Linked DNA regions of Homo sapiens. The protein of the gene in region 1 binds, or shares a complex with, the protein of each later gene. Each region holds a gene or a part of one and is shown on either strand. Other genes may lie near its edges. The genes, in order: ODAD4 and ODAD1.

Evidence for each region.
Region 2: ODAD4 (region 1) and ODAD1 share a complex: the UniProt entries of both Homo sapiens proteins name them as parts of the outer dynein arm-docking complex.

The regions. Positions count from the first base shown.
Region 1 is NC_000017.11:41,933,466-41,940,786, forward strand, and holds part of ODAD4 (outer dynein arm-docking complex subunit 4), read left to right. Parts: intron 1-1,751; coding exon 1,752-1,883; intron 1,884-2,005; exon of another isoform or gene 2,006-2,078; intron 2,079-2,133; coding exon 2,134-2,284; intron 2,285-3,007; coding exon 3,008-3,069; intron 3,070-3,296; coding exon 3,297-3,462; intron 3,463-5,091; coding exon 5,092-5,316; intron 5,317-5,499; coding exon 5,500-5,707; intron 5,708-7,321. UniProt on the Homo sapiens protein: Component of the outer dynein arm-docking complex (ODA-DC) that mediates outer dynein arms (ODA) binding onto the doublet microtubule. Plays an essential role for the assembly of ODA-DC and for the docking of ODA in ciliary axoneme.
Region 2 is NC_000019.10:48,304,659-48,311,979, forward strand, and holds part of ODAD1 (outer dynein arm-docking complex subunit 1), read right to left. Parts: intron 7,009-7,321; coding exon 6,895-7,008; intron 1,666-6,894; coding exon 1,598-1,665; intron 1-1,597. UniProt on the Homo sapiens protein: Component of the outer dynein arm-docking complex (ODA-DC) that mediates outer dynein arms (ODA) binding onto the doublet microtubule. Involved in mediating assembly of both ODAs and their axonemal docking complex onto ciliary microtubules.

The DNA.
Region 1 (7,321 bases):
CATGGTGAAACCCTGTTTCTACTAAAAATACAAAAAATCAACCGGACGTGGTGGCGAGTGCCTGTAATCCCAGCTACTCCGGAGGCTGAGGCAGGAGAATTGCTTGAACCCGGGAGGCGGAGGTTGCAGTGAGCCGAGATCGTGCCATTGCACTCCAGCTTTGGCAACAAGAGCAAAACGCCATCTCAAAAAAAAAAAATTAGCCAGGTGTGGTGGCGGGCACCCGTAGTCCCAGGTACTCGGGAGGCTGAAGCAGGAGAATTGCTTCAACCCGGGACTCGGAGATTGCAGTGAGCAGAGATCGTGCCACTGCACTCCAGCCTGGGTGACAGTGTGAGACTCTGTCTCAAAAAAGAAAAAGGGGGGTGGGTACAGTTAGATGCCTCAGGAAGGACAGTACACCACAGACTATGGTAATCATCTCACACAGAAAAGAGGACACTGGGAGTGGGGATATTGCCCTCAACCCCACTTTAGGGTCAAAATCAGTTTCATTTTCCTAGCATTTTCTTTTTTTTTTTTCTTTCTTGTTTTTCATTTTTCTTTTCCCTTTCTTTCTTTTTTCTTTCTTTCTTTTTTTTTTTTTTTTTTTTTGAGACAGCGTCTCACTCCATCACCCAGGCTGGAGTGCAGTGGCATGATCTCAGTTCACTGCAACCTCTGCCTCCCAGGTTCAAGCGATTTTCTTGCCTTAGACTCCCGAGTAGCTGGGATTACAGGTGCTTACCACCATGTCTGGCTAATTTTTGTATTTTTAGTAGAAATGGGTTTCACCACGTTGGCCAGGCTGGTCTCAAACTCCTGACTTCAAGTGACCCACCCACCTTGGTCTCCCAAAGTTCTGGGATTACAGGTGTGAGCCACTGCACCCGGCCTCTTTTTGTTTTGTTTTGTTTTGTTTTTTGAGACAGAGTCTCATTCTGTCACCCAGGCTGGAGTGCAGTGGTGTGATCATGGCTTATGCAGCCTCGACCTCTCCAGGTTCAAGCAATCCTCCCATCTCAGCCTCCTGAGTAGCTGGGACTACAATCATGGACCACCACGCCCAGCTAATTTTTTTGTATTTCGTAGAGACAGGGTTTTGCCATGTTGCCCAGGCTGGTCTCAAACTCTTGGGCTCAAGCGTTCCGCCCACCTCGACCTGCCAAAGTGCTGGGATTACAGGTGTGAGCCACCACTCCCAGCCTTTTCCTGGTATTTTCATCTTAATCCCCGGATATAGTGATTAGTTCTTGATTAGCTACATAAAAAGAGAAGGCTACTGGAATGGTTAAGCCACATGGCAGATTGTCCTCAAGTCCACTTCAGAATGCTTAGCCTTTGAAATTTGCTTTGAGTATGATGTGTTGCCATTTCAGGTTTGTAGTTGAGTTTGGTGTGCACAAAATACCCTACAGTTCTATTGCCTGAGGGGACTGAGGGGCTCTCAGACATTGGTGGAAAGTCAGCGTATCCACAGAGCAGCATATTCCTACTCTTCAGCCAGTGGCTTCCACAATAGCCATGATTTGACCTTGTTCAAGGTGAGCCATATGCAGATAATCAAGTTGACTGAGCGCAGATCGGAGTTGTTCTGCTTAGGAGCCAGAGGCCTGTGTGCTGGCCTGAAGAATCCCCTTGATTCTTCAGAGCCTTGATTTCTTCAGAGCCTGAAGAAATCCCCTCTGCAGGAGGGTTTGGGCTGCCCTTCCCACTCCAGCTTCTACCTTGCTCTTCATGCTGGCTGTCAACCTGACTGGTTTCTTTGTCAGGCTCTTTACCTTCAGGATGGAGACAAGAACTGCCTGGTTGCTCGCTCAAAGTGCTTCCTGAAGATGGGAGACTTGGAGAGATCCCTGAAGGATGCTGAGGCTTCGCTCCAGAGTGACCCAGCTTTCTGTAAGGTGACTGCATGGGCGGGAGGACTGGATCCTGCCATTGCCTGTAGCAACTTCTGGTTACAAGTAGTTGTTACAAGTAGAACCAGCCAGACTGCCTAGTGTTTGATGCCATTTTCTCTTCCTAGGTCATTGCCTAAGTCCCTGCCCCCTGTATTCCAACCTTGACCTTCAACCCAGGACCCTTCTGTTCCACCACATGTGAGTCCTATAAGGCCTTATCTGTTCACATTGATTTGATTTCCTCCCATTCCAGGGGATTTTGCAAAAGGCTGAGACACTGTACACCATGGGAGACTTTGAGTTTGCCTTGGTATTCTATCATCGAGGCTACAAGCTGAGGCCTGATCGGGAATTCAGAGTTGGCATTCAGAAAGCCCAGGAAGCCATCAACAACTCAGTGGGAAGTGAGTGACCACAGGGCCTATGCCCTTATCCAGGAAGGTCCTTGGAATCCTTAGGTTTAGAGGAAGGTTGAGTCACAGCAGGTGAGCAGCCACCACCAGGCCCGCAGGGAGTCCTACACCTGGATTTGGCTGCTGCAGTGTTGTTGAGGATTAGCCGGGCATGGTGGCGGGCACCACCTGTCTGCTGGGAGGACCATTCCCTGATGCACACACTGATCTCTGAGCGCTGCAGCCTTGGGTTTTCCTAAAGGTCAGATTAGAAGGGCTGTTTCAAAGTAGGCCTGTCTTTAGCCTGGTGTCAAAAGCTATAATGCGGTCCTGAGCCCAGCCTTCTATAGTCCCTGGCTTCTTTCCTCACCAGACGCATACCAAGGGCTGGCCTTAGCCATCAGCATTATGGCAGGGGGAGAAGGGAAGCAAGTGAGAGCAAGTGAGAGCTTGCTCTGTCGGTGGCAAGGCCTGGAAATGGACAGTTTCCCCTGCATCCTTGGCCTCCCTTTGTTTGGAAATCTGGCTGCCATAGCCTTGGGCTAGCGGGGGCTGTTAGCTCCTAGGAGTTATACCAAACAGCCTGCACCATTTGCCTGCTAGGCTGGCTTAGGGCCAGCTTTGCCACAGCCTCCACCATCCCCCTGCCAAAGGCAGCCATTTCTACATAAAAATATGTGATAAGTCATGCCTGGGGGGTCTGGCCGACCTGAGCTCCAGCTTCTTTCCTTGCAGGTCCTTCTTCCATTAAGCTGGAGAACAAAGGGGACCTCTCCTTCTTAAGCAAGCAGGCTGAGGTAAGGGCCCTGGTTCTGTGGTTGTATCCCTCCAAGGGAAGAGGCTATGTGTGCCTGAGAAGGGGTCTTGGGAGTCTAGCTGCAACCTGACCAGGCATACTCCGTGACTCTTGGCCCACAGAAAGGTCCTGGAGTTGGAGGAATCTGGGATCACAGACCCTAGGGCCATGGCTGGGTACACTCTGCTCCTTGCTGAAGCTCTGTTGGGTGTTGCTCCATTTTCTCAGAATATAAAAGCCCAGCAGAAGCCTCAGCCCATGAAACACCTCTTACACCCCACCAAGGGAGAGCCCAAGTGGAAGGCCTCGCTCAAGAGTGAGAAGACTGTCCGCCAGCTTCTGGGGGAGCTCTACGTGGACAAAGAGTATTTGGAGAAGCTCCTATTGGATGAAGGTTTCGGACACTTTGTTGGCACGGGGCCTTGGGGGAAAGGAAATCTGGGTGGATGCTTCATGCATGAGCTGAAGGCAGAACCTGTCATATAATATTAGCTGACGTGTACCTGTGGACAGGTTTTATTAGCATTCTCATTTTACAGATGAGGAAACTGAGGCGCAGACCAACAGAAACTAAGGTCATATATAGGTAGGCAATGACATGGCTTATATTCGAATCCAGGAAGTCCAATTTTAGAGCAATGCTCCTAAGTGCTATGGTACCCTGGGAGGGAACAACAGAGATTTGGTCTCCTTTACCACCATAGTCCCTGAAGGGACATCCCCTTTGCCTTCAATCCTTACAATGGGCAAAGGAATCCAGCGGATATGTGCTTAAATCCGAGGATATTAGTTCTAGAATGCTCTGAAACATCATCTGGTCCAAGTTCTCCTTTTGTAGATAAGGAAATAGAGACCCTGATTGGGAAGGAACTTTCATAAGTTGACAAACAAGTTCATGGTGGAGTCAACATCAGAACCCAGGCCTCTGACCTCCAGTCCAGTGCTCTTTCTTTTAAAGACAGAGTCTTGCTCTGTCACACAGGCTGGAGTGCAGTGAAGCAAATTCGGCTCACTGCCACCTCCACCTCCTGGGTTAAAGCGATTCTCCTGCCTCAGCCTCCCTAGTAGCTAGGACTATAGGCGCCCACAACCACATCCGGCTAATTTTTTGTATTTTTAGCAGAGATGGGGTTTCACCATGTTGGCCAGGCTGGTTTTGAACTCCTGACCTCAAGTGATCTGCCCACCTCGGCCTCCCAAAGTGCTGGGATTACAGGTGTGAGCCACTACACCTGGCCAGTCCAGTGCTCTTTCCACCACACTGCTGCCAGTGACAGGATGAAGGACAGAAGCCTGAGATGAATGTCCCACATCAACATGGGGATGGGAGTATTGCCATTAGCTGATAAGCCTGAGCAGGGTCACCTGTGAATCAAATGCCTCTTCTCCAGAATTGGCTTCCCAAGGTCATGTGTAGGGTTCCCTGTTCTGTGACACAGGAACAGCTTCACTGCTGGCACATCTCCTTAGCAACAGGCCTGAATGCCTCCTATTCTCCAGAGGACCCGCTGCGGAGGGAAGAGGTGGCTTGAATATTACCTCAAGTGGCCTTGTAGCTTTGCTTCTGGCTGTAACCTCTGGCCAGGCAGTGGGCAGGACTTGGGCACCCGCCTTCCAGCTTCCAGCATGCACAGGCCCACTGGGCACCTGGGAAATCACTGGGCACTGGCAGCCTGGGCCAGATCGTGCATTTAGACTCAGTGTTATCTGAGGACACAGCTTGAACTGGGGAAGCCCCGAGGCTTCTCAGCGAGCCATCCACCAGCTGCCCCTTCTGGCTAGCTCCTCATATCTTGCCATAAGGGGCCCATAGCATGGAACTCCCTGATAGTGGGGCTCTGGCTGCCTCCTGGCCTGGATAAACCCACTCTGCCACTATGCGCACTCACACTCCTCTCTGTTTCAACAACTCCAAGCAGAGCAAGTTCACAGAGGGCCCTGCAGCGGCCACCGGGAGGAAACAGGAGGCAAATCCCTTAGAGGCCTGTTCTCCTTGGCGCCTCCTCACACCCCTTCCCCACAGACCTGATCAAAGGCACCATGAAGGGCGGCCTGACTGTGGAGGACCTCATCATGACGGGCATCAACTACCTGGATACTCACAGCAACTTCTGGAGGCAGCAGAAGCCGATCTACGCCAGGGAGCGGGACCGGAAGCTGATGCAAGAGAAATGGCTGCGGGACCACAAACGCCGTCCCTCACAGACAGCCCATTACATCCTCAAGAGCCTGGAGGACATTGATATGTGTAGGTGTTGTTCTCAGAGGGTGGGGCAGGTGCCTCCAGTGCCTTATCAGGTGGGGAAGGAGCAACCAGGTGTCTGAGCCCCTGGTCTCTCAGACCTGCAGATGGTGTCTGCAGGAAGAGGAGTTACCCTGTCAGCTAAGAGGAGGCTGCCCTGGCCTCCACAGCACCCCTTTCCTTTCTCAGTGCTCACAAGTGGCAGTGCTGAAGGGAGTCTTCAGAAAGCTGAGAAAGTGCTGAAGAAGGTACTGGAATGGAACAAGGAAGAGGTACCCAACAAGGATGAACTGGTTGGAAACTTGTATAGCTGCATAGGGAATGCCCAGATTGAGCTGGGGCAGATGGAGGCAGCCCTGCAGAGCCACAGAAAGGACCTGGAGATCGCCAAGGAATAGTGAGTGCCCTAGGGGAGGCCACTGGCGTGAGCCTACGGAGAAGGACACCTGGGGCTATCTGAGGCCCTTGCCAGGGCTGCTGGTGGCTTGACTCCCATTTTCTGCTCTGCATGCCTGAGGTAGATTCTCCTGGAGGTGGGGACCACCTGCCCAGGACTGAGGGTGGGGGCACCTAGACTGTTAGCTTTTTTGCCACCAAAAGGGTAGTGGCTCAAAATTCCAAAAAGCTACCCAATGATCTGGCTCTTAGGGATGTTTATATTCTTACATCAGCTTAACGAGCATGCATGAAGCCCCAGACATGCCAGATGCTGCTAGTGTGGGAACACAGTAATAACCAGACACAAGGGCCATTTCCCTGCAGATGTCAAGCAAAAAGGGACATAGCTAATTAATTGCAATTGTGATAAGTGCCATGAAAGAAAAGTACAGGATCCAGTGTGGTGAGAAATACATTCCAGGAGGACTTGATGACATTGGGGAACACACAGGGCCTATGGAAAGGCCCTGAGACAGGAGGGTACTTAAGCCTGGAGAGCACAGCATATTGCCAGGGAGAGGGGCCAAGAGGAGGCTGAAGGAAGTGGGCAGGGGATGGATCAAGCAGGGTCTTTTAAAACCGGTGCTGATCAAGAGCACGGGCTGTGGAGTCAGGCAGACCTAGGCTGTGGAACTTGCACCGCCCAGCCGTGGAACCTGAGATAAGCCACTTTAGCTCCCTCAGCCTCAGGGTCTCCTCCTGTTAGCTGGGCACCCTGTAGGGCAGAAGGGAGGATGAAATACAGAAGTACCTGTGCAGACCTTAGGACAGTGCCTGGTATCCACAATAGTAGTAACACCAGCTCTCCAGAAATGAGATCTTCTCAAGACTTGCTGACTTCCACCCGGAGGTTCCATCGCTTTCTCAGCATCCTGGTTCTACCCTTTGGAGTCATTCTTGACTTCCTCCTGCCTGGTTTCTACCCATCTCACCAGTCTGAGCCTCCTTGATCTCCCATCATCCCATTTGCCCTCACAGTGCCCAGCCCTCAGCCGACCTGAGTCCTGCTGCTTCCCCTGCCTCTGCTGTCTCTCTCCAGCTCCTCCCACAAATCTCCAGAGACACATGCTATGAACTCTCCCTCCCCTGCTCACAAGTGGGCCTGGGCCCCTCACTGCCTGCAGGTTAAAGGTCAAGCCCCTTTGCTTGGCCCTCAGGCCCTCTCTAAACCCACCCTGGCCCTCTTATAGCAATCTTCCCTTGGGGTCAAACGTTCCTGAACATTCCTGCCTCCTGCCCTTTCCTCTTCACTGATCCAAGCCCCATATGCTTTCCATTCCCAGTTCATTTCTCGCCTGCCTCCACTGTGCTGAGCAGGAATATCCCATACTGGCCATCCCATATTAGAAAAAAATAGCTTTAGGGACAGACCTGTCTTCGATCCCTGTCTTCTAACTGGCTCTGCCACTTAGAAGCTGTGTGGATTTGATTAAGTTGCTCCTCTACTCAGTTTCCTCATCTCTAATGAAGGCATAATAATACCAACCCACAGGGACTGTGGGGATTAGATGTGATGTATATATATGGTACCTTGGATCCAACCATCTCCCATGCACAAATGAGTTAGAAATCT
Region 2 (7,321 bases), on another chromosome or scaffold:
CGACATCATATTAGAAACACAACACAAAACTCTCGGTGTGCTGCTGGCTCACGTTCTTTCAGCAGCCTGCTCTCCTCATCCTTCAGAGTGTACTGTCTCTCTCTAGGTAAACTCTCTGTTCTCTATTTGCCTTCAGTAAATTCTCTTTGTTGGCTAAATCAGTCTCTTGGCAGAATTCTTTCTCCCAAGTAAGACTAAAAAGCGAGGATTCCTGTACTTCCCGGTGGCAGGTAGTTTTCCTTTTGGAGTGATGGAAATATTTCAGATCTAGACAGAAGTGGTGCGGTTGCACGGCCCCGTGAATGTACTAAATGCTGCTACATTCTACGCTTTAAAATGGTGAATTTTGCCACGTTTGTTTTAACAGAGAGAGAGAAAGAGAGAAATCACAGAGACCCTAAGGCCGACCCAGGCCACAGCTGATGTCGATCAGGGACCATGAGAAAACAGAAGCCAGAGAAGAACTTAGTAGAAGGTAAGAAAGCATTTGGAGCAAAAGAAGAGGGCGAAGCTGAGAAAGAGACAGGGATGGAGTGAGAGAGAGAGCATGGAGCTCATGAGAGCCCCAGAGAGGGAGAGAGAAGCCAACACCTAAAGCAGCTTCAGCTCCTCAACTCCTTACAGTGTGCCTCTATCTGAAGGTGGCCCGAGAGGATCTCTGTCCCTTGCAACCAATGCTGACGAATAACAAATTCGCCAGATGCTTCCAGGAACCCTGCTGCACTATATATGTGCTAGATGCGCTTTTTTTTTTTTTTTCTCCTGAGACGGAGTCTCACTCTGTTGCCCAGGCTGGAATGCAGTGGTGCAATCTCGGCTCACTGCAACCTCCGCCCCCAGGGCTCAAGCAATCCTCCCACCTCAGCCTCCCAAGTAGCTGGGACCACAGACACCCGCCACCATGCCCAGCTAAGTTTTTATATTTTTGGTAGAGATGGGATTTCACCATGTTGGCCAGGCTGGTCTCGAACTCCTGAGCTCAAGCAATCTGCCTGCCTTGGCCTCCCAAAGTGTTGGGATTACAGGCGTGAGCCACCTCGCCCAGCCAGTAGATACATTCTTATGTGCTAGATGGGGTCAGTAGAGGTTAATTTACATGCCCAAGAAAAAGAACAGGGCCGGTGGGGTGCAATGGCTCATGCCTGTAATCCCAGCACTTTGGGAGGCAGAGGCGGGTAGATCATGAGCTCAGGAGTTCAAGACCAGCCTGGTCAAGATGGTGAAACCCCATCTCTACTAAAAATACAAAAATTAGCCAGCCACGGTGCCGGGCACCTGTAATCCCAGCTACTCGGGAGGCTGAGGCAGGAGAATTGTTTGAACCTGGGAGGTAGAGGTTGCAGTGAGCCAAGATAGCGCAACTGCACTGTAGCCTGGGCGACAGAGCCAGACTCTGTCTCAAAAAAAAAGACAGAACAGGACCTTGCCAGTGGAGGTGGGGAACTGGTGGCGGGGAGAGAGAAAAAGGGGATATTATGGGAGAAAAAATAGGTTCTGACGTGTTTCATGAGTCCTGAACCTTCCCATCACTGCCTTATGGAAAGGTGCGTCCTGAGTCATCTGGGTCCCGCCATCCCAGGATACCCGCAGTCTCTACCTGACGGCGTAGGCAGAGGTGGAGGAGAGGATAAGGGTGCTGACCAGGTGATGCAGGTGGTGGATCTCCTGTGGGGGGAGGAGAAAAAAATCAGTGCCACTTCTTACAACCCCATTGCTCGAAGTCTTTCCTTTTGGCCCCGTGCTTCTCCAATAAGGAGTAAAGCTCTTGAGCCTTCCAAATGTGGACCCTCCTCATTAGCGACTGCCCATGAAAGGGATTTTAAAGAGGTGTGAAGTCAAATTGATAAGCTGGATCAAAAGGCTCTTTCTGTAGATAAGCAGAAACTAAGAAAATATTTAGTAACCTACGGGGACTGGGTGGAAATGAGGTGGAGGAGATGGAGAGGAAATGACGTTTCCCTAGGAGACCTTTTGGAATAGTTTGATTTGAGAACCTTGTTAATGTTTTACATATTCATAAAGGAAATTAAATCAATAAAGAGAGGAGAGAAAACTAAAACTGAATGCAAATGGAAGCAAGTGAACTTTATTTAAAAATAATAATAGGGCCAGGTGCGGTGGCTCAGGCCCATAATCCCAGCAGTTTGGGAGGACGAGGCGGGCAGATCACCTGAGCTTGGGAGTTCGAGACCAGCCTGGCCAACATAGAGAAACTCCATCTCTATTAAAAATACAAAATTAGGGCCAGGCGCGGTGGCTCACGACTGTAATCCCAGCACTTTGGGAGGCCAAGACGGGAGGATCACCTGAGGTCGGGAGTTTGAGACCAGCCTGACCAACATGGAGAAACCCTGTCTCTACTAAAAATACAAAAAATTAACCAGGCGTGGTGGTGCATGCCTGTAATCCCAGCTACTTGGGACAATGAGGCAGAAGAATAGCTTGAATCCGGGAGGCGGAGGTTGTGGTGAGCCGAGATCGTGCCATTGCACCCTAGCCTGGGCAACAAGAGTGAGACTCCATCTCAAAAGAAAAAAAAAAAGAAAGAAAGAAAGAAAGAAAGATGAAATGAGGAATGCTCAGGAAAAAGCTGGTGATATTGGAATGGAATCAGAGGTATCAATGTGAACTCACTATTGTAAAATATGTCAGCCAGGCGCAGTGGCTCATGCCTGTAATCCCAATACTTTGTGAGGCCAAGGCAGGAGAATCACCTGAGCCCAAGAGTTTGAGAGCAGCCTGGACAACATAGTAAGACCCCATCTCTACAAAACATAAATAGAATTTTAAAACATATAAAATATGTGTGCTTCCTAGCTCTCTCCAGAGGAAGGGCCTCAAAGCAATGACACCCAAGTAGCAACAGAGTCTCTTAGTGCCAGGCTGGTGGTTCACGCCTGTAATCCCAGCACTGTGGGAGGCCGAGGTGGGCGGATCACGAGGTCAGGAGATCGAGACCATCCTGGCTAACACGGCAAAACCCCGTCTCTACTAAAAATACAAAAAATTAGCCGGGCGTGGTGGCAGGTGCCTGTAGTCCCAGCTACTCGGGAGGCTGAGGCAGGAGAACGGCGTGAACCTGGGAGGCGGAGCTTGCAGTGAGCCGAGATCATGCCACTGCACTCCAGCACTTTAGCCTGGGTGACAAAGCGAGACTCCGTCTCAAAAAAAAAAAAAAAAAGAAAACGGTCTCTTAGTGCCTCAACACCTACTCTTCCCTAGAAAGAACCGGGACTCCTCAGAAAAATGGCCAACCCCAGGGATGGGGCAGAACAAGGTCCAGATTACCCAGACTATCTTCGTGTGCCAGAAAGTGAGGAAGTACTCCCAAAAAGTGATGGGGTATGTCCAAAGGCCACAGAAGCCAGCTTGAAGGGGCTCCCACTAACCAAATCTGGGGCAATTTGAATATTAAAATGAATGGCAGTTACGGATCATCATCTATAAAGTCAGAATACACTAATGCTCACTGACAACACTCAAATATACAGGGGGAGAAAGAGAAGTGTTTCCTTTTTGCTTTTTTTTTTTTTGAGACAGAGTTTCACTCTTGTTGCCCAGGCTGGAGTGCAATGGCACAATCTTGGCTCACTGCAGCCTCCAGCTCCCTGGTTCAAGTGATTCTCCTGCCTCAGCCTCCCAAGTAGCTGGGATTACAGGCGTGCACCACCACACCTGGCTAATTTTTTGTATTTTTAGTAGAAACGGGGTTTCACCATGTTAGCCAGGCTGGTCTCGAACTCCTGACCTCAGGTGATCCGCCTGCCTCAGCCTCCCAAAGTGCTGGAATTACAGGCATGAGCCACCACACCCAGCCGAGAAGTGTTTCCTTAAGGAAAATGCGATCTTATAAATGTGGGAGAAATGACAGAGTCTTTTAAATTACCCTGTTGCAGCCATTACAGTAATAACCATTCAGGGAAGAATCATTCATGGATGATAAAATTGATGGCAGTAGCTGCTGGCTGTGGCTGCACACTCCATGGAGCCGGTAGGAGCCCTGACCCTTCTGAGTTGGGATGGGAGCTCCCCGTGTGCAGCTGCAGCCACCAGAACCACAGCTGCAGACCCAGGCCTTCTGCTCCACAGAGCAGGCAGGATCCCCGCCCTCCTGGGCGGGACTACAGCTGCCCAAACTGCTGCTGTGGATCTGAGCCTCTCTGTGCTCTTGCAGGGAGCCAGGAGCAGGCAGGATCTGCCCTCCCGGGTGCAGCTGCAGCTGCCCAACCCGCAGCTACAGACCCGGGCCTCCCACTCCAGGGAGCAGGCAGCAGCCGGGGACAAGCGAGGGTCCTGCCCCTTCCGAGTTGGTGGGGTGGGAGCTCCCAGAGTGCAGCTGCAGCCACCCTCCCAACCACAGGACCTAGGCATCTCTGAAGTTCTCTGCAGCCTGTACCCTGAACGGCCCAGGAAAGCACCACCGCACCCCCCTCCCCACCCCGATCCCTGCAGGCTCGAGCGTGTCTGCTCCTGCTGCTTGGCCTCTCTCCTCTCTCACACCCACTCTGATCTCAGAGAGGGGTTGGGGTCCAGCCCAGTGCCATGAATGGCAGCAGGAGGCAGGCAGATTCCTGGGCAGAAGAGGGCAAGTACCCGGTAAGGTCCCTCCTTCAAGCCAGGGAGGGCCTGAAGGCTGGGGGCCAGGTTGCCAGTACTGCAAAATGAGTGGGGACTTGCAACGTCTCCTCCAGGCCTGCCCATGGCCACCCATGGAGCTACCCTCTCTGCTGAGAGCTTCAGAGGCCTGCAGAGACATCTGAACAATCTGCCTGCGGAGAGGAACCACCCTCTCCAGGGCCTCCTCACTGCTGATAGCTGAACACTGGACGAGACGACCTGCCTGCAGAGGAGCTGCCCCCTGCAGGTCTCCTCTGAGCTGTCCTAACACTCGGTAAAGCTCCTCTTCATCTTGCTCACGCTCCACTTGTCTGCCTACCTCCTTCTTCCTGGACACAGTACAAGAACTCGGGCAAAGGCACCACTGGCCAAGGAGGTTTCCAGCCAGAAAAGTGACGCCGTAAATATCCCGTAACAAAATGATTGAGTGAAGGTGTGTCAGGGGACAAGATATTTACACAGTCTCAGAGAATCTCCCCACAGACCACTTATTCACTACAAAAAGGAAAACTCTTCCTGGCTAGCCAAGTGATCAAAGACAACATCACTAGTCATGGGACAAGTTGACATCAGGTGCCTCCTGAGATCTTGCACAGGAAGGACACACTATCACTGCTGTGACATTCCCCCCAAAGTGCAGATGCCAAGTCTAATCATGAAGAAAGATCAGATAAACCGGCCGGGCGTGGTGGCTCATGCCTGTAATCCCAGAACTTTGGGAGGCTGAGGCGGGTGGAACACCTTAGGTCAGGAGTTTGAGATCAGCCTGACCAACATGGAGAAACCCTGTCTCTACTAAAAATACAAAATTAGCCGGGCATGGTGGTGCATGCCTGTAATCCCAGCTACTCAGGAGGCTGAGGCAGGAGAATCACTTGAACCCGGGAGGTGGAGGTTGCAGCGAGCCAAGATCACGCCATTACACTCCAGCCTGGGCAACAAGAGTGAAACTTAGTATCAAAAAAGAAAAAAAAGACCAGATAAACCCATGTCAGGGGACATCGCACAACACAAACGGCCTGGATGCTTCCAAAATGTCAACGTCATGGAGAAAAAAAAGCCCAAGGGACTGACCCAGATGAACAGAGCCAGAACAACCAAATGCAACGTGAGATTCTGGACCGGAGCCTAGAGTAGGAAAATCAAGTTCACTGTAAAGGACATCACTGGGACAATCAGTGACCTTGACATATGGACGGTTTAGAATTCTAACAATGTTAACCTCCCTGACTTGGATAACAGCACTGTGTTTATGTAAGGAAATGGCGTTGTTCTTAGGAAATGCTCTCTCAAGTACTTAGGAGCATAATGTCTACAACATATTGTCAAACAGTTCAGCATTCAGGATAATAAATTATTCTCAGCAAAACAATAATTACACACACCAATAGTAAGAGTGGGGGAGAAAGAGAAAATAAATGTGGCAAATTATCAAACTGGGTGAAAGATATATAGGAGTTCTTTGTATAATTCTTGCACCTTTTTCTGTAATTTGAAATTATTTCCAAATGAAAGTCAAGACCGGACGCAGTGGCTCACGCCTCTAATCCCAGCACTTTGGGAGGCCGAGGCAGGCGAATTGCCTGAGCTCAGGAATTCAAGACTAGCCTGGGCAACATGGTGAAACCCTGTCCCTACTTAAAAAAAAAAAAATCGGCCGGGTGTGGTGGCTCACGCCTGTAATCCCAGCACTTTGGGAGGCCGAGGAAGGCGGATCACGAGGTCAGGAGATCGAGACCATCCTGGCTAACACAGTGAAACCCCATCTCTACTAAAAATACAAAAAATTAGCTGGGCGTGGTGGCAGGCCCCTGTAGTCCCAGCTACTCGGGAGGCTGATACAGGAGAATTGCTTGAATCTGGGAGGCACAGGCTGTAGTGAGCCAAGATCACTTCACTGTGCTCCAGCCTGGACGACAGAGTGAGACTCATCTCAAAACAAAGAAAGAAAGAAAGTCAAAAGAGAGGGGACAGGGCTGGTTCTTCAAAGATCCCCGTGGAATGTATAATAAATGGTCTTGCTTGCTCATAGATTGCCCTGGGTGATACTATTCAGAATGACATTCTGCTTTCTACAACTATAAATGAGGCCACTTTTTTGTTGGAAATGTCCTCCAACATTTCCCAGGCCTCCATGCCTTTTGGACTAAAGCAAGCCTACCGCTCTAGTCAATCCCATACTTGAGGCCTGAGTGCTAGAGCAGGAAGGGCAAACAGCTGTGGGGAGGACCTGCGCAGGGGTCCCTGTCTCCTCCCCTGGATTTCAGGGCCACTGACCTTCTTCAGCTTGCGGTCCACGTTCAGATAGCGGTTCCTGTCGATCCGCAGCAGATCCAGCTCCTCCCGCAGGGCCGCATTCCGTACCAGCTGGTTGTCAAAGTGACAGGTGACCTGGGAGTAGAAAGGTGGATGGAAGAGTGGGTCTGAAGCCAAGTCTGCCTGCCTCCTCCAAGCTCAGCCAAGGAGGAGACACTTATCAGAGGTTGGGCCGGCCTGTTTCCTGAGAAACAGAGGTTCTTTGGGGTTCCCGAAATCAATGTCCACTCCCCTCTAAGGACCCATCATTCTCCTTTCCTTGGGAACCTCCATCCCTCCAGAATCCTGTGTCCTGACACATATGTGCACACACTGCCCAGCATTTCCAGAATCCAATGACCATGCCCAGTTCTTCCCATAACCGCACAATTCAGGTCGAGGGACCAGG